3 separate regions of the Homo sapiens genome follow, and regions 2 and 3 are each linked to region 1. The links come from fine-mapping of genetic effects on gene expression. A gene starts in region 1. Each other region holds a variant in brackets. All regions are shown on one strand. Distances are from middle to middle.

The links.
Region 2: its variant is fine-mapped to the expression of TNFRSF19 in lung (TOPMed, PIP above 0.99).
Region 3: its variant is fine-mapped to the expression of TNFRSF19 in atrial appendage (GTEx, PIP above 0.99).

The regions. Positions count from the first base shown.
Region 1 is chr13:23,565,097-23,576,335 of GRCh38, forward strand. It overlaps TNFRSF19 (TNF receptor superfamily member 19), which reads left to right and starts at 5,316. Exons shown (of 10, transcript NM_148957.4): 1 at 5,316-5,752. RefSeq lists enhancers at 2,727-3,239, 3,240-3,751, 9,115-9,284, 9,755-9,904.
Region 2 is chr13:23,511,063-23,522,301 of GRCh38, forward strand. LOC124903135 (a long non-coding RNA gene) reads left to right here. Exons shown (of 3, transcript XR_007063720.1): 2 at 10,609-11,239. Among named protein-coding and RNA genes, the nearest start is that of LINC00327, 47 kb to the left of the region's middle. The variant AG/A (reference allele first, on the strand shown) is at 4,864.
Region 3 is chr13:23,482,028-23,493,266 of GRCh38, forward strand. It overlaps LINC00327 (long intergenic non-protein coding RNA 327), which reads left to right. Exons shown (of 3, transcript NR_038995.1): 3 at 4,208-5,437. Among named protein-coding and RNA genes, the nearest start is that of LINC00327, 18 kb to the left of the region's middle. RefSeq lists an enhancer at 10,466-10,966. The variant A/C (reference allele first, on the strand shown) is at 6,651.

The DNA of each region.
Region 1 (11,239 bases):
AAATCTCTGTAGTAGCTGCTCAATCTTTCTGTCAATCTAAAACTGTTCTAAAAAGTAAAGTGTCTCTCTATATATAAATTGAGTGCTAGCATCAACAAAATGCAAATTTAAACTATCATAAGCTACTATTAGACTGCATTTAAATAGCTGAAATGACAAAAATTGACAATATCAAGTTTTGCCAAGGATGTAGAGCAAATGGAAATCTCCTATATTGCCAACAGGAATGTAAACTGGAACAAACACTTGAGACAACAATTTGGCAGTTTCTTTTTTTTTTTTTTTTTTTGAGACGGAGTCTCTCTCTGTTGCCCAGGCCGGAGTGCAGTGGCGCAATCTCGGCTCACTGCAACCTCCGCCTCATGGGTTCATGCCATTCTCCTGCCTCAGCCTCCCGAGTAGCTGGGACTACAGGCACCCGCCATCACGCTTAGCTAATTTTTTGTATTTTTAGTAGAGACGGGGTTTCACCGTGCCAGCCAGGATGGTCTTGATCTCCTGACCTTGTGATCCACCCACCTCGGCCTCCCAAAGTGCTGGGATTACAGGCATGAGCCACCACGCCCAGCCAGCAGTTTCTTTTGAAGTTAAACATACATACACCATATAATCCAGAAATTCTACTCCTACATATTTACTTAACAAAAATGAAAATATATATCCACACTAAGACTTGTACACAAGTATTATCAACAAATCCACTGAAAAGGATCTTCCTTAAAAAAGAGAATGATTTTATTCCTGTAAGCAGTTTGCAAACCAGGGAGACCCAGCCTTCAGTACAAAACAAAGATGCTCTCCCTGAGAACAGAGAGACAGGTTATCCTTTATAGAAAAAGCTCCCACCCAGATTCCCACTCTGGTCTGCTCTGCAAGTGAGAGGGATGCAAGTATGTTTGGTTTTGATTGGTCAATGCAAGTCACAAGTCTATTTGTTAGATCCAGAAGTCAAGATGAGACTTCCCAGCACCCATCAAATCAGGGAGCATAAATAGGAGCAGACAGCCATGAAAGTCCCCAAATCACGCGAGCCTGTGGTTTCTCAGAGAATGCAGAAGACGTTTGTGACCTGGCTCCATTCTGAATTTAGACCCAGTTAGCCACTCAGGATCCATTTGGAAGGATTGGCTCTTTCAGGTTCATGAAGTGTTCATGGCAGCTTTATTTACAGTAGCCAGAAACTGGGTTCTATCCCAGTTACCTTTAGTGACTTTCAGTCATACTCAGCTTCACTGAACAGTACCCCTGAACTGGCCCTTTAAGAAAAGGAAGGCGTCTTCTGCTCACGAGGTCGGAGGGAGTCCAGAAGGGCAGGGGGTGTCCACTGGAGCTGGGGGTGCTTTGTAGGAGGCAGATGCTGATGAGGAGAATGTAAGGCTTCAGAATATGTAGGAAAATGGGAGTTGTACCTCTTTGTAGTTTGTTGGATAGTGGCTTTGTATTAGTTTCTTGAGGCTGTGATAACAAAGTACCACAGACTTCAACAGCAGCAGTATGTCCTCGCACAGTTCTGGGGGCTGGAAGTCAGAGATCAAGGTATCAGCAGGGTTGGTTCCTTCTGAGGCTGTGAGGGACAGGTCTGTTCCCGGCCTCTTACCCTGGCTTGTAGATGGTCATCCTCATGTCCACACAGTGTTCTACCTATATGAGTGTCTGCCTCTTTATCTAAATCTCCCTTTTTATGGGGACATCAGTCATTCTGGGTTGGGGCCCACCCTAATGACCACATTTGAACTTGATTACCCCTGTAAAGACCCTATCTCCAGATAAGCTCATGTTTTGAGGTGCTGGGAGACAAGACATCAACATGGGAATTTAGGGGGATACAATCCAACCCATAACAGGCTTGAGCCTTTTTCTTTCTGTGATTATGTGGACCACAGTCCCAGATAGCAGCTACTGGTCCCAGATCATGTACAAGTGGTCCCAGCATTGTGAAGGACCTGAGGATGTCTGGGCTACCTTGGCTTTGAATAACCAGCCCAGGAGCTGTGTGAGAGCCTGTCCTGCCCCTTTAGAATACTGAAGTTTGAATTGGATCCCCTAGCTAAAATGTTGGCATTTTAATAGTTACAGAGAAAAGAAAGGAACCTTAGCTCTTCTGTTGAGGGTTTATTCTGCCTGATGCTTTCGAAATAAGTTTGTTATTTTGGCAACACTAATGAGGTAGGTGTTATCCCCTTCCTGCAGCTTAGGATTAAAAAGCTCAGTGGGACTAGGTAGCCTTCGTCCACACTGCCTAAGCTGTTATTCAAGTACAGGTAGTAAGAGGGATTTGAACATAGGCCTTTCTGACTCCAGCATCCGTGTTCTTTTCATAACCATGAGCTATTTCATTTTCTAAAAAGTGTTCAGTTGAAACAAATGCAGAAATTATTCCTCTCAATGTATGTAATAGATCTGTGTTTATCTGATCTAATCCAGGATATATCCTCTGAACAGAAAAGTTAGAAAAGACGGCATTAGAAAAGACATGCAGACAACTCAAAAAACTATGAAACTTTATGGGGAAAATGTGTTATCACCTGATCTATATCTTAAAATGGTGAGAATTCATGGCATCCACCTGTCAAGATAAAGGAGCAAAGGAACCACGCTCCAAGTTTTGGGAAGAAAATAGCACATGGTGGCGACTGGGGGTGACATGAGACCCCACTCCCCATCAGGAATCTCAGGCAGCCCCTCCCTTCTTGGATATGAACAACTGAAGTTTTCTCAATCATTTATTTTATTTTTTAACTGATTAATAATAATTATACATATCCCTGGGCACCTAGTGACATTTCTATACCTATAAGGTATAGTGATCAGATCAGGGTAACTGGCATGCCCGTCATCTCAAACACTGACCACTTCTTTTAAAGTGTAGCCTGGAGCTCCCCACTGTGGATCCAATGGCTGCCACAACCACTTTGCAGAACCAGGTCGCTGAAAGGCAGCTTGACAAAAAGACTAAGATGAGCCAAGTGTACTGCAACATGGCACAGGAACCATTGATCAAATGCTGTAACTTGGTGTCATGACAACGGACAATGATGTCGAGTGGAGTGCTGGATCTCTTATCACCACTGTATCACACTGATTTAATCACACTAATCTAAGCTTCTTGAAGGGGAAAGAGAAAAGCTTTGTAGTAGCTCCCCTTCCTGGTGCTGTTCAGAAACAACAATGGTGCAGGCCACACCTCACAACGAAGGGGGCTCGGCTGGCTGGGCACAGTGCTAAATGAGCCGCAGGTCAAGAGGTCACTCCTGCAGCCAGGCCGACCTTTAGCCACACTCTGGTCCAGGCGACAGATGGGGCCCTAGCCTCAGTCCCCTTTCATCTCACATATGGGGAGTTCTTGGCCACAAGAGGACCAATTCAAAATAATATCCAGTGACTTGGTGAATAAACTCTTCCACTGGAGATGGTATTGCATTGTTGGATGTATCTTGAACTACAAAGCTTGCTTGGGGAGATTTGTATAAATTGAAGATCATTTGATTGGTTTTCATTCAAGTCCCTGCTTTCAAGTGCCTCCTGTATGTTTTTCAGTGGAACACAAGAACCCGAATTCAGTCCTTCACCTATTTCTACTGGTGTTGAAATCTATAAAGACATAAAATCTACTTGCTTAGCCAATGAGCCTTACAGAGTGTCTAGTTGCTCTGATTTAATATATCAGTGTATCGGGAAACTTTAATCCTGAGTGCAGGCTGTTGGCATATGGATTCCATGCTGGTGGTAGGTTTGGACTACCTCAGAAAAGAAATGGGCACATGCCTTCTTGTAAATATTTTGTCTTTGTAAATATTTTCTTTGTATTCATGGGTTCAAGATGCCCAGGAAACGTATGTGAAGCCCAGATGTCACAGGAATTTTCCTGGTCTGCTTTAAGGAAGTCCTTAAGCATCACACCTGCCAGTTCAAATACTATTTGAGCCCTGTGCATTTTTGAGAAATGATGTATAAGTAGAAAAATTATACAAGAAACATGGAAAAATCAACAGGACTATTTAAATGTTATACAGAACTTATGAACAGTTCAAACTAAATATTTTGCTATTAAAATTATTCAAGAATCATAGAAATCTGGAAATAAACACTTCATAAATAACGTTTTCAAATATCGCGTCAGGAAAAATTAGACAAAACCAGTTAAGGAGGGAAGTTACATTGAAAAAGACTGAGTTCTACTATCCCCTAAGTTTTGCAAAAATATTTTTAACTTACTTTCTAAAAGTTAGTGAGTTTCCATTATAAAATAGAAAAATTGTCTTCATTCCATGAAAGAACTGTCTGAAAATCAGAAAAGCACCATATCCTGGATTTCAAGGAAGATGAAACTTCTTCTTATCTTCTATTTTACTAAATACTCAAAATAAAATAATCATATTGTATTGAATCTGACATTGTTAAGGAAAATAGCTTAAAATTTTTAAATAATGAGCAATATATTTAATTTTAAAATACGAAGAATTAGGCTAAGGTGGTAATTTTTTAGTGAGTTGAAAGTCCAAACTATGAGTTCGGAAGAAACAGCCCTAAAAGGCAAATAACATGGCTTTGGAATAATCACAGGGCAAATGCTTTGTTCTACATAATTCTTCTTTTGTGAATTTTAAAATGCTCAACAAGTATTAATGAAATATGTCTAAGAAGTAGATATTGCTTTAAAATCTAATTTCCAGAGTCCCGAACTAAGGCAAAGATTGAGATTAAGTCTCCGCCCAAAGTCTTAAGTGAGCCAGTGGAAGATGGCAGTTTATTCATGAATTGTTGGTTATCTGCTGCTTAACTACTTAACACAACCCGGTTTGATTGGTAATCAGATCCTAATAATGTATGTTTCAAAGAAAGGGCAGTTTCCTTAAAATCCTTAAAGACTTGTCACTTTGAAAACTGGAATCAAAATGTGAAAATGTTATCGGTCCATCTGGCAGTGTCCTTGGGTGTTTTTTAGAGTGGTCTCATAGTGCTATTTAACTATGCTGAATATTTGACACCCAGTCTCTGTAGGAAATTGTGATTTTTATCAGCGAAGAGGCAATTAAATGCTGTCATTTGGCACGTCCATCCATCAGGGATCTTATCACCCAAGAAGCATCCAGCAGCAGTTGCTGTCCTTTCCAGCTGGCAGACAGATAACAGAAACTGTCCTGTGTGAGGCACAATAGTCTAACATGATTAGAAATCAGCCAAACTCTGGCTTCTCTTGAGCTATACTCCCCCACAGGCTGAATTATAGCTCTCCTACCAGTCCCACGGCGCTGAATGATGTCATGGGATCTGCAGTTCAGCGAGATGAAAGGGATAAAGCAGAACCCGCTGGCACTAGGAAAAGCTTCCAACACACAGTCCACAACACAGCTTGGGAACCAAAAAAGCTACAGATCCAGCCACTCAGCCCAAGCATGGGAGAACTACCAGCATTGCCTCATTGCAAAAAAGAGGAGGAAAACAACGTGATCCATGTTTAACAAAAGAGTCTGTGGACTAGGAGGTGGGAGGGTAACTACCTGCTGAAAGTGAACTTTCTTTGATATCCATGCATATATATAAACTCAGCCCTGCCTTTGATGTTCAGCAACTGATTCACTGATCAGATTACAGGCATTTCATCTCCCTGCTCGTCTGCCTTTGATCTGCATGGTTAATTTTATTTTCCTGGATTTGAAGTTTCGTCTGGGCTTGTGCTGACATACATTTTTGGGAAGGTAGAAGCATTTGGCACAGAAGTGCTGCCAGGAGAAACTAAGTTGCTGAACGGGTAAGTACTGCAAAGAGCTCAGCATGTTGCAGGTACTCTGTTTTAAGCTTTGTTATAGCTTTCACTGCATTTTTCGCATGTGTTCTGAGAAAAGAATGGTTTTAATTAATTTTTTAGAAAGCATTTATACAGCTGAATACTACATGATGCTGAATGTGTGTATCAGAGTAACTATGGAACTTGATGTAATTTTTAGTAGTTTGTACAAGAGGGTTTGCAGTCTGTCATACAAATTTTACTTGGAAATGAGTTGTACAAACAGGACAAAACAGAACAGCGCTCACTTTAGCATGCAACTGGTACTTCAACCCCTGAGATCTGTGAGCTATAATTGCTCTAAGTATTTACAGGTTACCTTATTTAGTAAACAGTCAGTGCAACTTTGCTTGTTGAAAATGCTTTCTTTGTTTTCTTATATAAAAGAGTAAAATGTATCTCTGGCAATACTGTTTCTTTAGTTTATTTATTCTCTCACTTCCAAGATGTAAATCTATCAAATACACTTCCTTATGCAGTTTGTACACTCAAGGGAATCACTGAAAAACCATCAAGTATGATTAAAGACTTTTATGTGTAAAACTGAAGAATTTAAAAACAGTGAGGATAAAGTTGCACTAAGTTTGGCTAAAAATACTCCAGTGATTTTCTATAACCTTTGGAAATAGCATAAGCCTTATTTACAGAAACATTCACAAGGTTAATATTCCTAAATTAACATTTACTTTACATTTATAGTGACAGCTGTTTTAAGTCAAAATTTGCCAACTGTTTATGAAAACTATCTGAGTAATCAACAGTTATTATGTTACATAAAGTATCTTAGTCACATTTTCACTTTAGCTAATGCCCAACATGACAAAACCAAATTATATTGCTGTACCGAATTTGAAAGTTAACTGTTATTTTTTTGTCAGTTCATGATACACACACACTCACGCTCACACACACACACAGTAAAATCTTTACAGTGAAATATAAAAACTAAATACAATGGAAAAGTAACACTGTTACTTTGTTCGCGATGTTTTTTTTTTTAATGTTCTAGTCCTAAATTTATCTGGGCAAAATATTTAATTATTATCACAAGTCTATTTGATGCTAGCTGAACCATAAAGAAACCATAAGTGATAAGACCAGTTATCCTTTAGTCTGAAATTCTGATGAAACAGGAAAGGTCTAATGAGTCTCATTTCATAAGTAATTAATTTTTCACAGCCAATTAATTAAATTACTTTCTACACTTTCCTCTTGATACTAGAAGGGTAATTAGCATTGTTTATTTAATTTTAAAACTTTGCTAGTTGTTAAGTGGAGGTTATTTAAAGCCATGCTAAACTGATTATATTTTTAAAGTGTGTCATTAATAACTTAATCTTAAAGATTTAACTGCTGTTTTTAGTCATGCCAGGAGAGGCATTTGCTTTTTTTTTCTAAGAGTACAACAAATCATGTTCACAATATCCTGCAATATCGGTTTAGTTTGATTTTTTTTTAATTTGTTTGCTTAAAATCTTCCTTTTAATCACAAAAGTGGTATTAATGTTCACATTCAGATAAAGAAAATTAGCCTTTTAAAACAATGACTGGAGATGGTGCCTAAAGAAATAGTGTGTCTGAAACTTGCTCATTTAGTTCAGATTTGGATTTTAAAATTTTTAAAATGACTGTTTATCCTGCTACTAGGATCATTTTAACAAATACAGGCTCTCCTCAGCACAAAACAAAGGGGAGAATTAGCAATTATCTGATTAATTTAGGCTTTGTAGAAAACTAGCTTGGGCAAGTCAAGTCCTTGAAAATCCACTTCAGTGTTTGAATTAATTCAGTTAATTGTTTACTTCTAGTGTCATTGTTGAGAAATGAAATAGAGTGTATTTGATTTTAAAATAAAGATGGTTGTATCTGAAGGTACAGGTACAGTCTCAAAAGGCATTTCCTAATTAATTGCCACAAAATGACTTTGGCAGATATAGTCCTATTACTTCTACTGAACAAAACCCTTATGTGACATTTTTCAAAGCACTTTCCTATCTGTTGCTTCAATGGCAGCTTTGTTACTACAGAAAGTCCAAGTCTTCAAAAGACTTTTATGTTGAGTCCTGATACTGTCACCAATTAGCTATATGACCTCAAGAGAGTTTCCTCATGTGTGAAGTGAGGGAGTTGATCACATCATCTTTATGAAATAAGCAGAATTGGAATTTTTATGGCCATTTTACAGATGAGGAAACTGAGGCTATAGAAAACGAATGTCCCTATCTTAACAAGGTCACATGGCTGATTTTCCCAGTTCTAGTCCAATGTTCTTTCCAGTCTACCATGCAGGGTCTGCTTTCCAACAACTGCTTAAACAAATGCACTCTGTAGCTCATCAAAGAACAATATTAGTTTGAAAAATAAAGACAGCCACTTCCTATTGTAGTGCATTTTTTTTTTGTTTCCATGATAGATATGTCAGTCAGCTGGATTCGTCTGATTATTTTCCAACTGTTCCTTCTACTTCTGGACTTCTAAGCTGTCTAAACACAGTAGCTGCTACCCATAATTTAACATAATTTAACACGTAAAATAATTTTCACAAAAAGTTTAATGCATCAATGTGATGTGGAATTATATATGTATTTGTGTGTTTGCCTCTGTGTGTGTGTGTACATACGAGTTTGGCATTATATCAACACATATTTGTGTGTTTTGAAGGAATTGATATTTTCTTAGATGATGCCAGTGGCATCCAAAAACAGTTTAATAATTAAAGGTTAATTTTCCTCCAGGGAAATTCCCAGTGGGATTCTGTGAAACTTCAGTTGACAAACTCAATGTGCATTTCAAACATGATATGATATGTGTTTCATATCATGTTTGATTATGTTAAGACTCTTGAGCATGTTTTCATTATCTCTTTGCTTTTCTTCCTTGAAAAAATATATCTTGGGGCCAGGAGCGGTGGCTCACGCCTGTAATCCCAGCACTTTGGGAGGCCGAGGCAGACGGATCACGAGGTCAGGAGATCGAGACCATCCTGGCTAACATGGTGAAACCCCATCTCTACTAAAAATACAAAAAATTAGCCGGACAAGGTGGCAGGCGCCTGTAGTCCCAGCTACTTGGGAGGCTGAGGCAGAAAAATGGTGTGAACCCGGGAGGCAGAGCTTTCAGTGAGCCGAGATGGCGCCACTGCACTCCAGCCTGGGTGACAGAGTGAGACTCTGTCTCAAAAAAAAAAAAAAAAAAAATCTATCTATCTATATCTTGTGTGAAAAATTTTAATTTAGTTACTAATAAAATTTTATACAAATACAGGACTCTCATGGCCAAACAACTGCCCTCATAATAGGGCTTATCACCCTCTTTAGGATTCCTACATATACAAGATTATTACTAACATGACCTAATATTTATTAATTCACTCATTATCAATTAATTCAATATCAAGTACTTGTGCAAGGATAAATAACATGTGCAAGATTATAGGAATAATTCAGTGGCAGCATTGTGATCTACATTTTTTTTGTTCTGGGGCTAGGTGATTCATTCTTTTTAAGAATTACACAAAGCTGAACTTGACTGTCAGCAAACATTATAGCCAAAATTTTGGCCAAAAATATGGGCTCCAGTTTTTTTTTTTCCTTTTATATATTTTGTAAGAACTATTAGACATTTTTAATAGTATTTTCTGTCAGGATGGCCATAAAGGACCTCCCTAAGCCATGAAGGCATAATCTGTTCTCCCTCTGCTTCAGGAGTGAACTGAACTCAACCATCTGGCATTGGTTTAGTCGGATTCTCTTTCTGTGATGGCAAGGCCAGTCCAAGCCACCCTGGAAGAATGAGTGATTTTGTCCCCTTTAAAGGATGGTTCTTTAAAACGTTGTCCACCTGGGTGAGCTCTGTGATGGGAGGGCAGAGGGAGGCTCCCTGGTGGCTGTGTTGGCTGTGCTTTAATTTCTCCTCTACTGTCACTAGTCATTCAGCTTTGGCTCCAAAGTTGTTACCTCAAACCCACCCACTTGCCAAAATCAATACTCACTTCTTTAGATTAAGTAGGTAGTTTAAAACCCTCCTTTGTGACTTAAATTTTCTCTTTGATGAGAAGGGGAAGGAGAAGTCATGTGGGGGTTTCCAATGACTTCATAAAACCATTCCTTCCAACATAACCCACTGTCTTTGAGAGGAGTTCTGATAAAGATAGTTTTCTCCATCCTGTTAAATGCCCCCCATTCTTTGGTGGCTCTATAGCTTAGCACCATGGGCTGCTGCCCAGCCAGCCTGGCCTCAAGCCAGCCCTAGGTCGGGGAGTCCACCATGTTCATCAGGAAGGAGAGAAGGAGAGTCAATGGACTGTCTCTTCCCTCATCGAACTCATGAAAAGGGTCTAGCCAATGAGGTACTCAGGGCCAAACTCACAAAGATCAGTGCAAGTGCTGCAACTTGTAACAACTTTGCTCTGTAAGTGTCTTGAGCTCCACTTACAGGAGGGGGCTATAAAAATAGCCTCCTTGGGTTTTTCATATATATTGGTTTACGCACCCATGGTATGGTGAAGATTATGTTAAGATACAGAAAGCCCAGATTCTGATTCCAGCTTTGTTAATTAACTTGGTGTGCAGCATTCAGGAAGTCACTGGGCATTGGCCTCACGGTGCTCCCTCAGCCCCATGCTGATAGTCTATAATTGGCAGTAGTGGGTATCGGGAATTACTTAAATAGCTAGGTCTTGGGGGTTCCTCCTCCACTTATTTTCTTAACTGTATTTGGAAAACTTTATTACTCTTTGAGATTCTCACTCTCAATTACTAATTCATCCAACAAATTTTTAATGAGAACTTACTATGTGCCAGAAACTGTAAACCAAAGAGACAAAATTTCATATTCTCCTGTAGCTTGCATTCTATTCCACTTTTTTCCCAAGGAATAGTGATTTACACTAGAAATGACTAGAAGTTAGGCAATTTTTCATTAGCTTTGCTACCAGCGAGCTAATTTATCACTGAAACTATTCTTTCAGGGGTTTTTCAAGTTTTCCTTAGTTCAACTTTTGGGGAAAAATATTTTAAACAAATGCACTTTGTGTCAGCTCAGATATTGCTAAAACTATCTTCAGAAAACTAACTTTTAACATAAATCTTAAAAACAAACACCTCTATCAAGATTGTCATAGCAATTTTGCTTTTCCAGTAAAAATTTTAACCCATTAATGATATGCAGTGTTTTAAAGGAAGTAAAATGCTCCCAGTCCTAATTACAAGCATCCAGTTTCATTTTGCATGAGCCTAAGGATCACAGAATTCTTTTTTTTTTTTTTTGAGACCGAGTCTTGCTCTGTCCCCCAGGCTGGAGTGCAGTGGCGTGATTTTGGCTCACTGCAACCTCTGCCTCCCGGGTTCAAATAATTCTCCTGCCTCAGCCTCCCTAGTAGCTGGGATTACAGGCACCTGCCACCATGCCTGGCTAATTTTTGTATTTTTACAGAGACGAGGTTTCGCCATG
Region 2 (11,239 bases), 54 kb before region 1:
AGTGGTAGCTACATGTTCCCACCAAAGTCAGTTTTGATCTCCCTGTGCCTTGCTCACTAGCAGTTTAAGCGTGTGACTTTTCTTCAATGAGCAGCAAGATCACTGTTCTTTGCCAGCAGGTGGTGCAAAAATCTTTTTGCAGAAGTACTATTCACAGAAAAGCATAGGTCACCTCAGTGGGGACTCATGGAACACATGACCATCGCTTCTGGAAGAAGCAATGACTAGGCTCTTTATTTAATATCAATTTATGTTACTTCCAGAATGAACCACCTCTTCCCCATCCCAACCACCCTGCCACAATGGTTCCAACACACTGGGTTGTAAAGACTTGATTCGTGTTAGCCATTTTGACAATCCCAAATGTCCTATTTCGGAGCTCTCACCTCATTCCATCTGCTTCCCCTAGATGCCTGAAGTTGACTACAGCCCTGCAGTAGACCATTAGCCATTCCCCAGAGAGGCCAGCTATCTGTAACTTGACTCCATGAGCCCCACCCTCTTCCTCTCACTCTGTCTGGTAGGATTAAAGTGGGGGCTCTGGGTTTGCTGGCCTAAATCCCATTCTCCACCTTAGTCTCTGCATCCTAGAGATGGGATCCAGTGCAATCAAAAGTGGTCAAAAGCAATTCACTGTTGTTATTATTTAACAACAGAAATATTGGACTGTGAGACATATTGTAGAGAATAAACTAAAAATGTTAGCCACTTTGTAAATAAAAATGATCATAGAAATTCTGAACACTTTAAGATCCACTTGATTATCTCCTATATAATCTCAGTCAAACTTCTTAACTCTTCTGTGCCTCGATTTATGTCTTTATTTACTGGGCATAATCTATTTTTGCCACTTGACAAGAGAGAATGTGGGGAAGTCTAATACACTGTAAGCACCAGAGAAGAAAGAATCAACGATACCCATATTCAATCCTTAGTCTCTGTGCCAGGCAGTGTGCCAAGGACTTTCACAAACTTTGGTAAAACAGCTACAAAGGGGTAGTGCCAGGATTCAAATCCAGGTTTTCTGCCTCCCAATGCTTCTCCCACTTCCTATGCCAATTCATAAACCCTAAATCAATCCCAGGTCACAGGCTCCAGTATTCAGATTCTAGAGAACCCATAGGTTGAAGATGATCTTCAATGCCATGATCCTCCTTTGCTGCAGAGAACACCACTCTCACAGCCTGCTGACCAGGAAAGACCGTCCCCCCTCACCTGCCACCAATACATGCCCACAACTTGCTTTAAAATCACTCTGACTTTACAAATGAAAAAATGATCCTGGAAGGACTGGACATTCTGCTCCCCATCACAGAGACAGCTGACTGTGATCTTCTTCCCTTCAACTTAGAGCACCAGAGGTCTAAGTTCTCAGACTCCAGTAGGAGAACAGACAAATTGTCTCTCACTCGTCACCCTTCTATGATGGTCAAAGATGTCTTTGGGTAAACTGGATAGCCCTTAAGTGATCTCTTTGCCCTGGGACCACTTCCAGGATCTTCCCCTTCAGCTTCAAAGCCTACACTGAGTCTCTGTGGCCACCCCCACAGCTCCCTTCTCTTCTCTGCATCTGCAGTCCAGCCTAGCCCAACCCGCCCTCCGCCTTTCCTCTGTGCTCACCATTGAGGCTGTGCAGGAGCTACACTGGGAACCTGAACAGTCTTCCTGCCCCAGCCCCTCAGGTTCCTAGGCTCTGAGACTAACCCCCACCTTATTTAGTTACGGTTCGAACACTCCTTTGCATTTCTATCATTTACCTTTCACAGAGCAGGGAAGGCAGCTCAATTTCATCCCCAAAAGTTACTTTCTCCAACCTAATTCTCACCAAACACACAATCTATATGCTCTGTTAGTGCAGTTCCTAAATTCACCTACAGGGTGAATATAGATTTTATATGTAATCCCGTAAACTTGTATTAGAGAGCATATTTTATATTGACACACATCATGCAATTGATTCTCATCACATTTGTAGATGACATACCTTAGGAAGTATTTCCTTCGTAATATATTTTAATGTCATATTTAAGAATGTAAATGTTTTACAAAAAGTTTTTAAAAATTAGCTTGGCATGGTGGTATAGATATGTTGTCTTAGCTACTCAAGTGCCTGAGGTGGGAGGATGTCTTGAGCCCAGGAGGAGGCTGCAGTGAGCTATGATTCTGCCAACGCACTCCAGCCTGGGTGACACAACGAGACCCTGTCTCAAAAAAAAAAAAAAAAACCAAGAATATAAATGTTTGATATGATATATATGTTATCCTTTTCCTTACTAATTCTATTGGTGCCTAATTTTTCTACTCAAATTTTGCATTAAGTTTATCAAATGAATGATCCAGGTGATATCAAGACCACATATCATTTTTTCGTATCCACATTATTCAGTAAATGTTGAAGTATAAACCAAATACTATTCACCGAACTTAGCTGCAGGAAGAAAAGAATGAACAAGCAATGCTCTTAGCCTTGGGGGAGTTTATTATCTAGAAAGGGAAACAATTAAGAGCACAGCCAACTGTTCCACTAAAATGCCGAATGAGGTAAGACAGTCTCAGCAGCATAAAGAAAGCTGTCTAGAAATACAGAGGAGGGAGAGATTGTTCTGGCTGACTGTAGGGCTAGAGAACAGAAATAGAATCAGAAAAGAGGACGAGATCTGTGGCATGTGAGGGTGAGGGCATTTACATCAGTCCAAATGGATGAAGAGGAGATTCCAGTCTAGCACAGCATGGCCAGTCAGAGTAGAAGGGAGGCCCCAGCATGTGGGGAAGCTGCAATTAACTTTTTACCAAAACCTACCCCTGGTGAGGCAGAACAGAGAGAAATAATACCAAAAGCCACCCAACTGAAAAGGTAGGTGTGGATTCAAGAGACATTGAAAGTAGATGCTTCAGAATTTGACAAGGGTTGGGTATGAGAAGGAAAGCCAACAGTGCCCCTTCTAAGCACTAAGCACCGTATTTTATGTGTCTGATGCGTTAACGCTAAATCCTCAGGATAAACTCTACAAGAAAAAGAAACCAAGACATAAAAGAAAGAGCTAGCTGAGGGCCAAGTTATTAGAACCTTCAAGGCTCTAACAAACTGAGACGGTGTTTGGAGGCAAAGGGGGGTTGTACTGAGTTTTGAGCAAGAACATGGCCTGCAAACATAGGCTACTCAGCAAGTGGGTGGCCTCCACGGTCAGACTCTCTGGGCCGGGATCCTGGCCCTGTACCCACTGGGTGTGTAGACTTGGACCAGTTCTGGGAGGATAATAACAACCCTGCCAACTTGGAGTAGTGTGAGGATTAAATAAGTGAATACATGTAAAGCATTTAGAGCAAAGGGTCGGCATTTTCAGAGCCAGCTCCAGGCAGGCTGCATGACAGGTGTGCAGAAGGGGAGACACCCTGAAGAGGTCAGGCACTCACAGGACCACTTGCTGAAGCTGTCTGCTGGACAAAACATGCTGATGACCTAAACTTGCAAGATGTGGATTTAAAAGACATTTAGGTCTGTAATCCCAGCACTTTGGGAGGCTGAAGCCGGTGGATCACCTGAGGTCAGGAGTTCAAGACCAGCCTGGCCATCATGGTGAAACCCTGTCTCTACTGAAAATACAAAAATTAGCTGGGTGTAGTTGGTGGTGGGTGTCTGAGGTCCCAGCTACTTGGGAGGCTGAGCCAGGAGAATTGCTTGAACCCAGAAGGTGGAGGCTGCAGTGAGCTGAGATAGCGCCACTGCACTCCAGCCTGGACAACAGAGCGAGACTGAGTCTCAAAAAAAAAAAAAAAAAAAAAAAGACATTTAAAAGAAGAATCTCAGAATTTGACCACTGGTTGAGTATCAGAGAGAAAGATCAAAGATATCTCTCAGGGAGATTACTGGGAGAATAGGGGTGCCAGTAGCCGACAAGAAAGCCCAAGAAAACAACTGGTGTTTGGAGTGGGAATATTGTGGGGGTGGGGGTGGTTAAGAAGATAGAAGATCAGATTTAGGTGTGTTTAATTTTATCGCCAGTGGAATGTCCAAGTAAAGATGTACAGCAGGCAGTGTGAAATGCTTCCTAAAACAGGAGAAACTAAATTCTGTAAGGTTTATCATTATTCCCATGGTGAATTTCTACTCAGTCTTCAAAACACAGCTCAGAGGCTGCCCCTTGTGTGGAGTCAATTGAGTTGTGCCACTATCCCTAGCATTTATCAAATTGCACTGTGTTTGTTTACATATCTGTATCACTGAGCTCCTTAAGGAAAGAAAGGGTGTTTTGTTTTCACCCTTGCATTTATGCTCAGTGATATTTGGTTGAATTGACAAATGGATATAAACATCATTTCCAGAGCATTGTGAATTTAAATCGTGAAGATATATGAGATTTCAAGGGAGAGTGGAGAGAGAGAAGGAAGAGAAGATCAAGGATAGATTTCCCCTTCGGAGGACTCCTGCATTTAAAGGATGGCAGAAAGAGGAAAATGTCATTGCTGGAGGGCACAGACAGATAGAGAATAGTGAGGCCACTAGAGAGTGGAGCCCCTATGTCAGACAAACCAAAGGAGGTTTCCAAAAGGAGAGGGCATTGGTGTCTTGTGCTGCGAGGGCAGAGATGGGAAATACATGCACACCCGTGGGCGGGGGCATGCCTGGGGCCAGCAGGGCGAGATTTCACAGGGGAAGGAAGGATCCTGGCTACATCTGAGGGATCAGCCAGGACTCGGTGCCAAGACAATGTTTGCTCGGTATCCCCAAGCTTCTGAGTTTTCAGAGAAAGCCAGAATGCAGATATGTATGTAATATTAAATCTTAGCAACTAACTCAAGTTTTAAAAAATAAAAATAGTGTGCCCAAGGCTACGTGGGTCTAACAGATCCTACCTGACCTGG[AG/A]GGAAGCCAGTTTATAACCTCCAGTGAGGAAGGAGGAGGTTGAGAGAGCAGATATCTGAAATGGTGTTAAGTGCCTAGAGATCTAGCAATGAGTTGGGTGTTGAGGAAACAGAGGTACAACACATAGAAATTAAATTCTCTTGCCAGGTCTTCTTGACTTCCTGGACTATGATGAACGGTCGTCTTGAGAAGACCCCCTACACCAAATGCGCGTATCGGAACCTACTCACTCAGAACAGCATGGGTTAGTTCCACTTACTGGTTTAAGAAAGCTCAACGGGCAGAGGAAAAATAAAAGCTGCTGTCTCCCTAAAAGCCTCACTATAATACCTGTAGGGTATTACATAGCTGTGACTGGATTTAATCAGTTAAGGTCATAATCATTAGCATTCATTAGTGTCTTTTGAAGTCTTAAGGAGGTCCAGGGAGATTCAGATCCTGAAGTGATTTTGTTTTGGCTGTTGCCTGCTGGGAAACCAAGATAAGAGCCTCCAGAGACCGCAAATACAATAGAGGTTCACAGTGGAAGGATTCTTGGCTGAATCTGTTCAGTAAGGTTAGTCTTGCCTTCCAGAGAGCCTTTGACTGGTAAGGATGTCTGAGTGTTATTCCTCCACTGAGCTCTTACTGCGTACCTAGGGCAAGTTGTTCCCCCTTTTAGACTTGGTTTTCTCATGGATAAAATTGATATAATGATAGCAAGGCTAAGACTTTGTGGAGGAGGTTTTATGTATTTATCATAGTGCAACATGAAAGTGAGTGCTTGATTGTGTGTATGTGTCTGGAGAGCATGCATCACAAGTGAAAAAACATCTAAAAACTGAGATACGTTTGTCTTTTCTTTTAGTCCATTATCTCCAAATGACAGACTAGACTGACATCACAGACACACATTCAATGAGCTGTTTGCAATCACAGTCTTCATCTCTTGGAAACATTCGTACTGGTTTCATTTCAAAGGCAGTGCTGTCTAAAGGCTATGAAGTATCTTATTGGAAAGCTCCAGTAAACAGTATCTTATTTCACTGAGAATTTCTGGAAAGTTACTTCAGAATTTTTCAAGATGGTACAGGACAATCCTGCTCTACTCAAAAGAAGCAAAGGGTAATTTAGTAGCTGTGGGGTGAAATTAAATCATGTTGCCAAAACAGTGTGAAGAATCTTGCTGAGGACTTTAATGGTATCATTCTCAATTTCATGAAAGCTAAGTACAACCTAGGGTTTCTGATGCACTCTCTTACCACACAGTTCTTTCATTTAATGTTTAATCTTTACCGCCGCTTTGATGTATGGATTTGTTTATTTTGTAATTATTTTGTTTAAGACACTCTATGATTATTTCACTGTTGTGCCCATTCTTGCAATCCGTGGGGTTTTAAAAAATCTACCTATCGCAGGCAATCTCTAGGGCCATTCTGCCAAAAGAAAATAGTAGGATTAAAATCCCACACACATGCAAGAAGCAGCTAGGAATATAGTGGAGTCAATTTAAATATATACTAAACACAGGACAAATGCATCAAGTAGAATGCAGACGTGATTCCATTCCAATTCCAGGCTTCTGCGTTTTAAGCACCTCTTCCCTCCAGCCTGTGCTGCTGGTGGCAAAGAGCTGGTCTTGGGTGGCCCGGGAGACACCTGTCTCCTTTTGGATAATTCTACCCCAGAGCAAGGACCTGGATGAGACCGGTAGACAGAAACACTGCTTTGGCCCACCACATAGAAAGACATATTCTTGCAGGCTTAAAAAAAAACTGACTTGACATATTTCCTCAGAGCAAAACTCTTCTGCCCTTACAACACTATTTCTCACCCACGTGCACCAGTTCCTTGGTTCCAAAGCAAGAGAGTGCTCAGGGTTCCTGTGAGGGGTGGGTATTGGGTGTGAAGGCATACAGGGAGGCTGGCAAAGGCAGTTCCTGAAACTGATGGTCCTTGGAAACTATATACGTTTCTCATGTTGCCATTTTCACATTAAAATCCTAAAAGTAGAAAGAAATTCACTCAGGTTTCTTATAATTATGAGTTTTCATAATCAAAATTATGATATAAGTTAACTTAGTGTGTAGGTACTTTTAAAATAAAAGGAAAAGTGACCTGTATGTTATCATTATGTTGTTATTATGAAACAGAGTTTGTATAGTTCTTAGAAGAATGCAAAACACTTTCCTACACTTGAACTCATTCAAGTCTACCAATGAGATAGCAAATACAAGGATGATAATGATGGTGAGGACAATGCTTATCTTAGAAAAAGATACTGAGATCCAGAGAAGTTCACAATTGGTAAATGTCAGAGTCATAACTGTTGTGACTTTTAAGACCATTCTTCCCCACTTCACACCATTGCCTTATACCAACACTTTATAGAATAATTCCTATTGTGGAGTTCTGTGGGCAGGCTAAGCTTCTTGTCTACTTAAATAGTAACAGTAAAGCTGAATCAGTTGCACTGGAAGCCTGGATGTAATAGGATCCTTTAACATGTCAATGGCGTTCAGTATACCTGAAGTACCAGAAATAAAGGACTTGTTATAATACCGCGCTGCCAGATAACAACCTGACAACACCAGTTCTGGGGATAGAGTTAGTGAAACCACTGCAGTTTTCTCTGGCTACAGCAGCTGAGTTCTCTACAAGCCTTCTTGCCCCAGTATTTAGCATTGCAGCCAGCAAGAATCAGTGCACAGTGAAATTTTTAATTGAACGCTTACAGAAACATGTCATTTACTCTTCCTAAACATGATTAATGTTGATTCATTTAAAATATTGATCAATATACATCATTGAACACACAAATATGCCTCTCCTGTTAATAAACAAAATGTGCACAAACTGAGTATATTCGCCCTCTTTCTACTGATTTACCTTCCTGCTCCAGACAGAAATCCTCTCTAATAAGCTGCGCACATCATTTTGAAGCTCTGATGTGTACCTGAAATCTCTCATAACTGTCTATTTTCCCTCTCATTTCGTTGCCTTAGTTCAATCACCTCACAATATTTTTAATTTGATTCTTTACTAAGCTGCTTCTAGATAAGCAAACTGCCCCAATTCACTCACAGTAAAGCAAAAACTAGCAAATGGAGTTACTGGATTAGTGTAGACTAATCAAATGCTCATGGTTTCAATGAATGTTTAGTGAGTTTCTGAAAGCACATGGCTACACAGTTACCTAATTATAATGCTGTTGTTTTTAGTGGTACTAAGAACAACAGTCCTTCTATAAATCATTATTTCCCTTTTCAAACAGTTTTGATTCATTATTGCATTATTTTCTATCCATTAAATATGTTTAATATCAAATATATTATTTCACGAACTTCATCTGAAGTACGGGGAGTTTAGAGTGCAGGATTTCACACAATCCTTCCAAATTTGAGGACTGGGGCCCAGAGATAAGGGAAGGTACTTATGATTGGATAGAAAAAAACAAAATCAAAGGGATTACTTAATAATTATTTCCAAAGCCTGTAAAGCTTGACCTTATCCTTAGTGGCAATACTTTAAGAGAGAGAGGATACATTGATTTAAATCAATGGTTCTCACAGCTGAGGATGCTTTTCCCCCAGGGGATGTCTGCAATGTCTGGAGACATTTTTTATTGTTATGACTGGAGTTTGGGAACAGCTGTTACTTTTGCCTAGTGGGTCCAGGCCACAGGTGTTGCCAGACATCCTACAGTGCACAGGACATTCCCCCCACAATGAAGAATTATTGTCCCAAAATGTCAGGAGTGCGAGATTGGCAAGCCCTGGTCCAGACTGGACCTGAAGGTTAGTTTCCTGACACCACATATCAGACTCTAAATTACACAGCTAGGGGAATTTATCCAGTTTTTTGAAATAGGAAAAAAAAAAACAAAGGGACAGAAGATGATGATTTCCATTTTTTCATCACCAGCAGCTGATGCTGTGAAACGATTACAAGCTATCAGGGACATTTTAAATTCATGATTGCACCTACATGAACCTCTTCATAGGTTGCTCTTCCCTTTGACAAGAGTTTAGGACAAGGAGGCTTGTAGAGGGTGTACTGAAGACCCACCCAACATTAGACATTCTGATCTGGATTTGTTTTTCCTCTTCATTTCCTGAACTGACTTGGCTATGGATTAATGTTATCTTTACTCTAGCTTTAAGGCCTTAAAGTGCTGATAGCCACATATAGTATATTGCATGTCATTTCCATTAGGAACCGCAGCCATCGTTAGATCTGAGATGAGTTCTACGTGCCCACTGTGCCTTAGATTTTAGACTCCATAATAATGAAATTTAACTTGGAAATGTTTCCTGTTGTATTTATATAACACTTTTTGACCTGCCCAACCCAGCAGGAAGCAAGGACAGAAAACCATAAATAGATTTTAAAAGCATTCAAATGCAGTGCAAACAATAATCCACATTCAAGGTTCAACCTTGAAATTCCAGAAAAATTGGAGGGCTTTGTAAGGTTCACCAACCATTTGGTTCCCATCTACCTTTTTTTAGTATCTAACTTAACTGTTTTGAAAGACAATTATCACAATGACTGTTTTTTTAAATAACCAAGATTTGCCAATATAGTTTATTTCACTAACTGTCAAATGTTTTCTGCCTTTGGGAGTAGTATCTTTAAAAAGATATTAGATGGCTGGGCATGGTCACTCACACCTGTAAACCCAGCACTCTGGGAGGCCGAGGTGGGTGGATCACCTGAGGTCAGGAGTTCGAGACCAGCCTGACCAACATGGTGAAACCCCGCCTCTACTAAAAAATACAAAAATTAACCAGGCATGGTGGCAGGCACCTGTAATCCCAGCTACTGGGGAGGCTGAGGTAGGAGAATTGCTTGAACATGGGAGGCAGAAGTTGCAGTGAGCCGAGATCGTGCCATTGCAGTCCAGCCTGGGCAACTGAGCAAGACTCTGTCTCAAACAAAAAAAGGAAAGAAAAAAAACATATTAGATGGCAATAAGTCTGTCAGGGTCCTATCTTAGGTGGACAAGATTTCTCTGATGGAACTAATTATATATGACACTGTATGGTGTGGTGTTTAAAATCCGGAAACCAGAGTTGGAATGCCCGGGTTTAAATCCAGCCTTCCCACTTCATTTGTGTGAGTGTGTATGGGGAGTATGTTTCCAACTTAATCCTCCACGTCTGTTTCCTTGTGTGTAAAATGCTGATAATAACAGTATCCCCCTCATAGGTATTTTTCAGAATTACGTTAGTTAAACCAGTGATTCTCAACATGGTCCCCAAACCAGAAGTAACAGCATCATCCCAGGCCCTATTAGAAATGCATATTCTCTGGCTCCATCCAGACCCACTAAATCAGAAGTCCTTCAGGTAGTTCTGATACAAATAACCTGTGAGTTAAACCATGTAAACCATGGATCACTGCCTGGTACATAATGAGCATTCAATAAACATTCACTTCCATCCTGGCTAAAACGGTGAAACCCCATCTCTACTAAAAATACAAAAAATTAGCCAGGCATGGTGGTGGGTGCCTGTGGTCCCAGCTACTTGGGAGGCTGAGGCAGGAGAATGGCATGAACCCAGGAGGTGGAGCTTGCAGTGAGCAGAGATCGTGCCACTGCACTCCGACCTGGGTGACAGAGCAAGACTCTGTCTCAAAAAAAAAAAAAAAAAAAAAAAAGAAAAGAAAAAACAAAAAACATTCACTGTTATTATCAAATCTCTGTGGGCTTCTCTTTTACAATATATTTATATTCCTGTCTCTCATTTTTTTTTTTTTAGAACAAACCTATTTCTGAAATGTTTCTGGCTTCCATATGCCTCTGGCTTTTAGGAAAGCACAAGTGGCCTGCTTGGGGTCCCTCCTGGCTTGCTGGACTTCCCGTCACTTTTTGCCTGTCGTCTTCCATGGTTCCTGCATGGATCTTGTTGCCTCAGGACCAAGCTGCCTTTGCTTTTCCACAATGTCCATGACTATGTGGGGAAGGAAATGGACCCTCATGCTGACAGCGCATGTCCACGTTACTAGTTTCCTTTAGAAAACCATCTCCAATGGGCCAGGCACGGTGGCTCATGACTGTAATCCCAGCACTTTGGGAGGCCAAGGCTGGCAGATCACAAGGTCATGAAATCGAGACCAGCCTGACCAACATGGTGAAACCCCATCTCTACTAATAATACAAGAATTAGCTGGGCATGGTGGCACGCACCTGTAATCCCAGCTACTCAGGAGGCTGAGGCAGGAGAATTGCTTGAACCCGGGAGGTGGAGGTTGCAGTGAGCCGAGATTGCGCCACTGCACTCCAGCCTGGTTAGGGAGCGAGACTGGTCTCAGAAAAAAAAAAAAAAAAGAAAGAAAACCATCTCCAACCTTAACTCCAGGGGCGCCATTCATACCCTGTTCTATAGAACC
Region 3 (11,239 bases), 83 kb before region 1:
CCTTAAGGTCACCAAGAAGTGAGAGCTCAGGCCTCCTCAGCTCTTTCTTCAGAATGCCCACAGGCCTACATATGCCCCTGACCTTCCAAATTCTCAGGAATATGTCAGAGCATTTCAAAGCTCCTATGGACATCTTATTCCACAGCTTTTCCCTTTAATCTTCTTGGTTAGTCTATTGTTTGCACTATCATCCATCTCATGCAGCCTGATAGTTAAAAGACGTGCCTAAAATTATTTTCAATAAATGCCTCTTAACCCCTGGGAGAGACTTTTTACACTTGGCAAGTTCAAACCACATCAAGTAAAAATGTACCTTTTCAGTGGAGCCTTCTAAGGATGGATCAAACAATGTCAGTTCTTTGGGACTGAGGCTTTGAATGAGCTCCAGCTCTGTTCTGATCCTTTAATACTGGAATGCAGTTGTTATTTTTCTAGGCTATTGCTGAGCTGAAGAGTGGGAGATGGGCCTAAGGTAAGTTTCAAATGTTGTAAAGATTACAGTTCTTACCAAGATTCAGATATTTTTCTTGAATAAATGCTCCCTGGATGGCTGAAAGTCTTTGGTTAATGCCAAGAGAGTTGAAAAAATGGATTCTGCTTTTCTTTGCCAGTTTTTTCATTACTGTTACGAAGGAACAAAATTTTGGATGTTCTTAATCTGCCATTTTTACTACTGTCACCTATTTTAATGTTGTGTTTTTATAATCTACACTGTACAAAACTAGCCTCACAGAATTATGTTGATAAGGTGGAAGAAGAGATTTTTAAAACATTTTATTAAGCTCAGAATATTCATTTTTAAACTTTCATTCAAAGTAATGTAAATGATACTATATTTCTAAATTCATCTTCTACTGTTCATTAGTAGTCAGATTCAATAATTTATCCATAAATTATAGTTAAGTTTAAATTATCTTTTGATGAAAGAAATGGATTCTGGATCCATGAATTTCCTATATGTTGTCTTCTCCTGATAGAAAACAAAAATTCACAATCTTTTATCAAATTTAAAGATGTTTGGTGATACATTTTGACAGTGTAATATCAATATCATCACCAACTCTGCTGTCAATAAACTATGGAGCATGTCACAATAACTTACAGAAAGTCTGTTCTTTCAAGCATCCAAGTTTCATTTTGTGCTTTAATTTCATGTGGCATTAGAAAACATGTTGCCTTCCTTCCTTGCATAGGAGTGTGAGCCTCAGAAATTTGAGACTGAGACCTGTCTCAAATTTCTGAGGCTGAGGAAGGAGAATCGCTTGAACCCAGGAGGCGGAGGTTTCAGTGAGCCAAGATCGCATCACTGCACTCCAGCCTGGGTGACAGAGTGATAGATACCCTTTCTCAAAAAAAAAATTTGATATGGGCCACATTACTCTGAAGTCCATACATTAGTAGGCAGGCATGAAAGTGCCTTATGTATGTAAACAGGTTACTGTTATTTTCTGCCGAAGTTTAAGTTGTCTGTCTTCAGCTTGCAGGGTTTTTTTTTTTTTTTTTTTTTTTTTTTTTTTTGAGACGGAGTCTCGCTCTGTCGCCCAGGCCGGACTGCGGACTGCAGTGGCGCAATCTCGGCTCACTGCAAGCTCCGCTTCCCGGGTTCACGCCATTCTCCTGCCTCAGCCTCCCGAGTAGCTGGGACTACAGGCGCCTGCCACCGCGCCCGGCTAATTTTTTTGTATTTTTAGTAGAGACGGGGTTTCACCTTGTTAGCCAGGATGGTCTCGATCTCCTGACCTCGTGATCCACCCGCCTCGGCCTCCCAAAGTGCTGGGATTACAGGCGTGAGCCACCGCGCCCGGCCAGCTTGCAGGGTTTTAAAGAAGAACAACTTAGTTTTCAGTGACTTCAAATTAGGAAAAATGAAAAAGAGACGGAAAAAAATTGAAAACATTATTTTGAAGACTTGTAGCCAAGAAAAATTAGAATTTGGTCCAAACTGTAGAAAATAATAAAAATTGGAAAAAAACATTAGGCAAGACTAGAATCTAACAACAGATATATAATCATTTTGAAATAATTTTTTTCTCTCTCCAGTTCCCCATTTTACTAAAGATAAATCATGGTAGGGCTGGTTTGGTTATTATACTTGGCCTAAGTATTTGTATGCAGTGCAGCAAAAATAATTATTATTTTTACATAGGCTTTTAAATTGGCTTTGATGGAACTTTGTTCCATAAGAGGAATCTCAGATAAGACTTCTTAAAGCCCAGCCCAGCCATGGATTGTGCTATCAAATACCCATGAGTTGGGTGAAATTTCCTGCTGTCAGGGTTTCAAGATAAACCTGGGACTTCTGTGCCTGTCAGTAAGTGACATTCTTTACTTACCATGGGTCAGAAACCCTATACAGTGTGTACACAAAATATGAGGCTAATTTTTCCAAGGTCTTATTGGCTCTATAAGTCAAGTTTGATTCCTTAAAGGAAAGCACACCATTCCAGTCAAAGCCTTGGTAAAAGAACCAATTTCTCCAATTGCATCCTGTTAAAATGAAAACAGATTCTTATTGCACTTATGCAAATAACTGTGTTGCTGTAAGTTAAGAATACTCGCAAGTACTTTACAATTCTGGAGAAATCAGGTAGAGAGAAACAAATGTGTTCCAAATTTTGTTCACAGGAGTGTACTAAATTGTTAAAGCTGTCAATAGCTCAAAAGAAAAGTTTTTAAGACCTTGAAAAACAAAAGAAAGGATCAGCAAACAAATTCAGAAAAAAGTCAGGCAGGGTGCAGTGGCACACTTCTGTAATCCCAGCACTTTGGGAGGCCAAGGCAGGTGGATCACCTGAGGTCAGGAGTTCGAGACTAGCCTGACCAACATGGCAAAACCCAATCTCTACTGAAAATACAAAAATTAGCTGGGTGTGGTGGCGCATGCCTATAATCCCAGCTAGTTGGGAGGCTGAGTCAGGAGAATCGCTTGAACCCAGGAGGTGGAGGTTGCAGTGAGCCAAGATTATGCCACTGCACTCCACCTACATGATGGGAGCGAGACTCCATCTCAAAAAAAAAAAAGAAAGGAAAAGAAAAGAAAAAAAAGAAAGTAAACAGAGCAAGTGACCTTGAAGAGAAGAAAAAGAAAAAAACCAGAAAAAGAAAAATATTCAGATAACAGATGAGAATTTTTTTTTTTTGAGACGTAGTCTCAGTCTGTTGTCGAGGCTGGAGTGCAATGGCGTGATTTCCGCTCGCTGCAATCTCCACCTCCCAGGTTCAAGTGATTCTCAGGCCTTAGCCTCCCGAGTAGCTGAGATTACAGGTGCCTGCCACCATGCCCAGCTAATTTTTGTATTTTTAGTAGAGATGGGGTTTTGCCATGTTGGCCAAGCTGGTCTCAAACTCCTGACCTCAAGTGATCCGCCCACCTTGACCTCCCAAAGTGCTGGGATTACAGGCATGAGCCACCTCCCAGCCCCCCATAAAGTAATTCTTTAAAAGAAAATTGAATTGAGTCATTAGAGATGACAAAGGAGAATTTAAATAATTTATCTGATTCAAGTAATTTTTCATTTAAAACATAAAAACCAGGACAGAATGTCTTGAAAAGAGATCAGAGAACAGAAAAATTGTTTGGAAATGAAAAATATGATTGCTTCCCCCCAAAAAATCTTTCAAAGAAATTATTTTAAAATTGATAAAAAATAACTTATACAAGGTGAAAAAGTATATTTCCTGAGTGAGATAGGAAAATATTTTTTAAAAACTACAAGAAAGAAGTAATCCAGGATATCTAATATTAGACCAGCAAGAGTTTTTAAAAGAGAGAGCAGTGAAATGAAGGGAAATCATCTGTGCGTCTGTGTGTGATTTTTGTAAAATCATTTTTTAAAAACTTTTCTCAGAACTAAAAATGTTATGTCTTGAGGTTGAATTCCAAGCAGGATAAAAATAAAGAAGCCTGAAATGCATCTTTGTGAAACTTCAGAACAGTAACTAACAATAAATGGAAGATCCTAAAAATCTTACAAAGGCAAAAAACAGCCCAGCAGCTAAGGAGCAGGAGCTAGACTGCAGCAGAGTTTTCTTATCAGCAGCACAAAATGTTAGAAAACATTGAAGCAATACCCTCCAATTCAGAGGGAAAACAATTTTGAAAGTTCAATAATAGGTGTAGACAAACAATAAATGATGAAAGAGAAAATAATACATTTGATGCGATACTGGAAATTCACCTCTCTCATACCTTTCTTCCCCTCCCCAGGAGTTTACTGGAGGTTATACTCCAGTCAAAGAAGATGGAAACCAAGAAAGGACACATTTTGGAGATTAGCACTGGCTCCAGGAACCCAGTGAACAGAAGACTCAGGCTGAAGGCTTGTGCATTCAGCCCAGAGAAAATCCACTTAAATTCAGAACAATTAAGGACTCTGGGGAAGAAGGACTTCACATGGTAGTGTGATTGGAAGGCAGATAAATTTTAGGACACAATGGAAGTTCCTAAGATTTTTTATCCTTTTCCAATAGGAAGGATAAAAAAATCATCTAAAACTAGAGGAAAAATCATCTAAAACAAGGTATAAAGAAATGGCTCACGTGTGACCCTTATTTTACTGTGACATGGAGCATTTGATGAAGGATGTGGGAAGGGAGCCTGCTTAACTATGAAGTGAGTAGCATCGCCCCAGGAGCACCATGACAGATGCACAGGACATGGAGGGAAGGAAATGGCATCCTGGCACAGCCCTGGCTCTACATTGAGCAATGTAGACAAAATCATAAAGGCTGCTCTAGTTTTCTACTTTTAGAATCAACCTACAGACATGTAAGACTTAATTGTAGTTGTAGAATAAAAGATAAAAGATTATTGGCTTTCATAACAATAAAGTCCTAACAATGATTCACAGTTATTCCATGAATAAGGGTAGGGGAAAAGAGGGAGGAATGTAAGGCATTTTATATGGAGCAAGGGAGGCAAAAGACGTTGACAGAGGCTTATGGAACAACACACACACGCACACAAATAGAAGGAATATATTGCTTAAAATGACAAAAATAGCCAACATAGGCTGGGTGCGGTGGCTCATGCCTGTAATCCCAGCACTTTGGGAGGCTGAGGCGGACGGATCACTTGAAGCCAGGAGTTCAAGACCAGCCTGGCCAACATGGTGAAACCCCGTCTCTACTAAAAATACAAAAATTGACTGGGCGCAGTGGTGTGCATCTGTAGTTCCAACTACTTGGGAGGCTGAGGCAGGAGAATCACTTGAATCCGGGAGGCGGAGGTTGCAGTGAGCCGAGATCACGCCACTGCATCCTAGCCTGGGTGACAGAGTGAGACCGTCTGAAAAAGAAAAAAGCCAACATAGGAATTTTTAAAATAATATATAATTACCAAAAATTGGGGAAAATAGAGACAGGGAAGGCAGTTCTATAAGCGAGATAAATCTTTATCTTTTGTATCAGAAAGTCAATAAATATTGTCTGAATTTGATTGGTTATTTCCATTTTTATGAAATGTCTACAATAGGCAAATCTATAGAACCAGTAAAGAAATTAGGAATTCCTGTGGCTGGGACTGAAGAGTGAAATCACTGCAAGTGGTCAAGAGGGATCTTCTGAAGTGATAGGTGTGTTCTAAAATTGGGCTGTGGGGATGCTTGCACAACTCTGTAACTTTGCTAAAATTCATTTCATTACACATTTAGTGAGTTTTATGATATGTACATTACCCATCAATAAAGCTGTGTTAAAAAAAAGGCTGATTTTTTAGGCTGGGCGCAGTGGCTCACGCCTGCAATCCCAGCACTTTGGGAGGCCAAGGCGGGGGGATCACAAGGTCAGGAGATCAAGACCATCCTGGCTAACATGGTGAAACCCCGTCTCTACTAAAAATACAAAAAATTAGCCGGGTGTGGTGGCGGGCACCTGTAATCCCAGCTACTTGGGAGGCTGAGGCAGGAGAATGGCGTGAACCCGGGAGGCAGAGCTTGCAGTGAGCGGAGATCATGCCATTGCACTCCAGCCTGGGTGACAGAATGAGACTCTGTCTCAAAAAAAAAAAAAGGCTAATTTTTAAAAAGGTCAAAGAAGAGATGTGAAAATATATTATTTAGAGTTCTGTAGGCAACCAACAGGAATAAAAGTAGAAATGTTTTCTGGGATGATCTAGGAGTTGCTAGGGTGAGGAAGTGTGAAATGGAGGCAGCTGTTTATCAGTTATGTTTTTATCAGTTTATCAGTTCTGTTTTTCTATACTATTTCCATTTTGTTTATCAATGCATGTATTACCTCAGTTCATTATTAGAGATTTTTTAAAACTTTAGATTTCTTAATGCAGAAAAAAATGTTTCTTGTTTTTAATCTTTTAGAATTTAAATATGAGTAATGATGGCATGTGAGTAAATGAATAGAATTTATTTTTTCTCCTAAAGACCAAGGCCAAGGGGCAAACTCTCTTACAAACCACCGCTCATAACTTGATGTGGACAAGAGCTCAACTGGGCATCGCCAAAAGTCCATGCCACTCCCAAAATAGAATGGAGGCAAGGAGACTAAGCAACTGATCTTTCTGGGAATGACATTTGGTGCAGCTGTGTTAAGCGGTTGCCATGGACTAATACAGAAAACATAAATAATCTCAGAGAAGCAAGTGCCCGAGAAAAACGAGATGACACAGGAAGTTGCTAATGTTATCAGCTGTCTTC[A/C]TCTGTTTATATAAGAACGCTGCCAAAGTAACCATCTATGTGCCCAGGTTTTAAGCCGCATGACACAACCTCTTTACCCTGAGGTGAGAGTGACATGGTGGCCAATGAGAGGCCATCACTGTGGAAAACACATATTAAGACTTTTTGAGATATGAAGTAATGGGATAGATCATGAGGACTTGAGGCTACAAGCTGACGACCTTGCAGTTGGTTCAAAGAGCTTGGGGACTTTTCAGTGTAATTTTGCTAGGTGACGAATCGGAAGCTTTCACACCTGCATTCCCTTTCTTTTTTTCTTATTTATTTATTTATTTATTTGAGACGGAGTGGTGCCCTGTTGCCCAGGCTGGAGTGCAGTGGCGCAATCTCAGCTCACAGCAACCTCCACCTCCCAAGTTCAAGCAATTCTCCTGCCTCAGCCTCCCAGTAGCTGGGATTACAGGCTCCCGCCACCACGCCTGGCTAATTTATTACTATTATTATTATTATTATTATTATTATTATTATTTTTGGTAGGGACAGGGTTTCCACATGTTGGCCAGACTAGTCTTGAACTCCTGACCTCAGGTGATCCACCCACCTCGGCCTCCCAAAGTGCTGAGATTACAGGCGTAAGCCACTGCGCCCAGCATTCCCTTTCACATAAAATGCTACGTGAATGGTGGTAATAAAACAGTCAGAGCGATTCCATGCAACCCAACAGATAACGTGGTTTGTGCATTTTTTCTATCCATGAGGGAATGAGAAAGGCTATTCCTGCCTTTCCGTCAATTCCATTCAACCAAATATTTCCCATTTTAACGTGAAATCAGACCTCTCATGGGTTGGTCTGTTGTTGGAGTGACCACACTCACTTACTCCACTTGCTCCGAGGTTCCTCTCATTACCTGAACATGCACACGGGGCCCAGCAGGCACTGAGGAAAAGGTTGAGTGGCACTTGTCATCTGCATGCCTCCCAGGTGGGTCCTGCTCAGGGAGGAGTGTCCAATAACCTTGGTGACAGCCACAGCCTGGCAAGATTCATGCCGCAGACAACACGGTGCCCGAATCCCTTCCTTATAATTCCCCAGGCATGGGGTTAGTAGACAAAGCCAGTGAAGCTGATAAGAGAAGCAACATGTAAAAGGGGAGGGCACCACGTTGTCCCCTAAGACAAGAATGGAAATGGTTTAATGAGTTTGTTACTTACTATCTACATGATGTTAAAACCAATCCAGGCAGGGCAAAATAGGTCAGAGCCTTTTCACAAAGCCAGTACTTTGTGTAGTGAGATTTTAAAGACATTACCCTGTCAGTGAGAGAGAGAGAGCTACAGTTAGACAAACATGATAAGACAAAGAGCTAAATATAAAATAAAAAATGCAGATGTGAAATCATATTTGCAAGTCTTTCTTTTGCTGTCAGTAGTTGGTAATTGGTTGTAGCCACCCAGATGCGAGTCAGATACATACAACCGTAAGTACCACTTAAAATTTCAGTGGCTAAAGAATCTTGCCAGAAAGAATTTTTTAGTCAAAATTCCTAAACATTTCTCATTGTGCCAAAACGTACATATTTGCTTATAATATATCAAAATAAAAATGAGAATTTCCTTCATTTCTGGTGTTGTGAAAAGTTCCTGATAGATATCTCATGGAGACCAGGTTCCAAGAGCATTTCCTGTGGCCTTACTGCAGACAGCAGATCATTTCAGCCTCCACTCAGGCGAATGCTTAGTGGCTGGGAGTGTGCACGCTCTGGTTCAAGTGCAGTGAGGGTGGGGTACTAGACTCACCACTTCCTAGCTGTGGGGTGTTACTCCAGGCCTTTAAACTTTTATCAGAAACTCAAGCCTTCAAGCTTTCATCTCTTCCATCTCTGCACCTCACAGGACTACCATGAGCTTAAATGAGAGCACACATAAAATATGGTAAGAAACGGGTATGATTATTTTTCCTATTTTATAATTGAAGGCACTGAGGCCAAGAGAAGTGAAGTGGCTCCAAGTCACAAAGCCTTGGGTCACAAAGCTGGGATCTGAAGGCAGACTGTCAATAGTAAGGTTGTTATACACAGTAAATGAGTTAATTCATGGAAAGCTCTTAGGAAAGCCTTGGTTATGAGAAAGCTCTCAATAGAGATTAGCTGTTTTATTATGACTTCATTCGCTTTCACGCTATTTAAGCCTTTTCCTTTATTTCACTTCAAAAATGAGGGCTTGGTGGGGCTGGGCGCAGCGGCTCATGCCCGTAATCCCAGCACTTTGGGAGGCCGAGGCGGGTGGATCATGAGGTCAGGAGATTGAGACCCTCCTGGCTAACATGGTGAAACCCAGTCTCTACTAAAAATACAAAAAATTAGCCGGGCATGGTGGCAGGCACCTGTAGTCCCAGCTACTCGGGAGGCTGAGGCAAGAGAATGGCGTGAACCTGGGAGGTGGATCTTGCAGTGAGTTGAACTTGCGCCACTGCACTCCAGCCTGGGCGACAGAGCGAGACTCCGTCTCAAAAAAAAAAAATGAAGTCTTGGTATATGTGTTCACATAGTCTCTAAGGCTGTACATTTTGAACTTGTTCCATTTCTCTGACCTTGTAACCCAGGCTTTTGGGAAAGCTGTATTCTCCAGCGGATGTGAAATAGAGATGGCAGTAACAGTAACGTAGATATAAAAATAACTCTTCCAAGTGGATCAAGTCACTGGTGAAGGAATGCATGTAAATCCTTGCAAGCCTCTTGGGCAGTCTGGTTGCTCACTAAATGTTTTTATTTAATGAAACTTGATGGTGATTTTTAAATCTCATCCTTTTAGGGTTATGTACCCCATAATAAAGGAGAAATGATGTATGGACTTTTTTTTTTTTAACAAAAGAATGAAAGCCCGATTTATAAAGTAAACATTGATGGCAAGGTTTACATAAATGGAGCAATCTCTCCTACATAAAAGGAGAGATTGCGGTGGAATTAGGTATGAGGGATGGAGAATCTCTTTCCTCTGTTCACCATGGCAGATACAACTTGTGCTGTTCCCGGCTGTTTTTTGAGGTGCCATAAGGATCAAAACAGCAATCTGTCAGTAAGTTGGTAAGTTCCATGGGGCCAACCTAAGTTTGATCCCAGCTTCCACGGTCACTAAGCCCAGGACTGTGGGCAAGTTTCCTCATCTGTGATATGGGGATAATGACAGCACCAAGCTTTTAAGTCTGTGTGGGGATTAAGTGAGATAAATGCAAGAGAGTGTGAGAAAAGGGCCTAGGATGAAGCATGCATTCTACCTATTGACTATTAGTAGTATCCATCCTCCTTATTAAAGCACACTAACAACAAAGCTATTACATGAAGACACATAAAAGCAAACTTGAAAGAGATGGCAGGAACTTCAATACTCCAGTGGCAGGAGGCAGCCTCTGTGCTCACACTGACTGCCAGGTGCCCGTGAAATAGCTACTTCCAAGAGCTGGTAATAGAGTTGAAGCGAAACTCCAGCTCCAGTACCTCCATTTCCTTAGAACTAAAATGTGGAACGTGGCTGGGTACGACAACTCCGGCCTGTAATCCCAGCACTTTATGTGGCCAAGGTGGGAAAATTGTTTGAGGCCAGGAGTCTGGGATCAGCCTGGGCAACATAGCAAGACCCCCATCTCTATTAAAAAAAAATCTTAAAAAAATTAGCCATGCATCGTGGTACACGTCTGTAGTCATAGCTACTCAGGAGGCTGAGGTGGGAGGAGGCTGAGGTGGGAGGATTGCTTGAGCTCAAGAGGTGGAGGCTGTAGTGAGCTAAGATTGCGCCACTGCATTCCAACCTGGGTGACAGAGTGAGACCCTCTTTCAAAATAGATAAATAAATAAAATGTGGAGCATACAGCTATAAACTTTCTAAAACTGAGCGTGTTACATTAAAATGGGAATTATACTTTTGAAACTACTTTTAAAAATGCTTGTATTCTTAGAAAAAGACCATTTTAATGCAGTTCAGATGAAATATCAGAAACTTTTCATGAAGAAACCATCAGAATTAAAGAATGGTATTTGATTATGATATGATTGCCTAATAATTATTGTTTGCTTGGGTTTTTTTTTTTTTTTCCAGAATCCTATTTCTTTTCTTTTCTTTTTCTTTTTTTTTTTCTTTGAGACAGAGTTTTGCTCTTGTTGCCCAGGCTGGAGCGCAATGGCATGATCTCGGCTCACCACAACCTCCACCTCCTGGGTTCGAGCGATTCTTCTGCCTCAGCCTCCCGAGTAGCTGGGATTACAGGCATGCGCCACCATGCCCCGCTAAATGTTGTATTTTTAGTAGAGATGGGGTTTCTCCATGTTGGTCAGGCTGGTCTCGAACTCCTGAGGTCAGGTGATCCGCCCCCCTTGGCCTCCCAAAGTGCTGGGATTACAGGCGTGAGCCACCGCGCCCAGCCTCAGAATCCTGTTTCTATTTAACATCGTCCTTCAACCGGCTCTGAAATTGAATTATGGGAGAAAGCCAGTTACGAAGGCACAGAACCAGACCGTGGTGTTGTGCTGGGTCTGTTCATGAGCACAGACATTCTTCCCCTCTTTTTAGGCTGAGCACATGATGCCTCTCTCGGCTTCAAAGCAAGCCCTGGAATA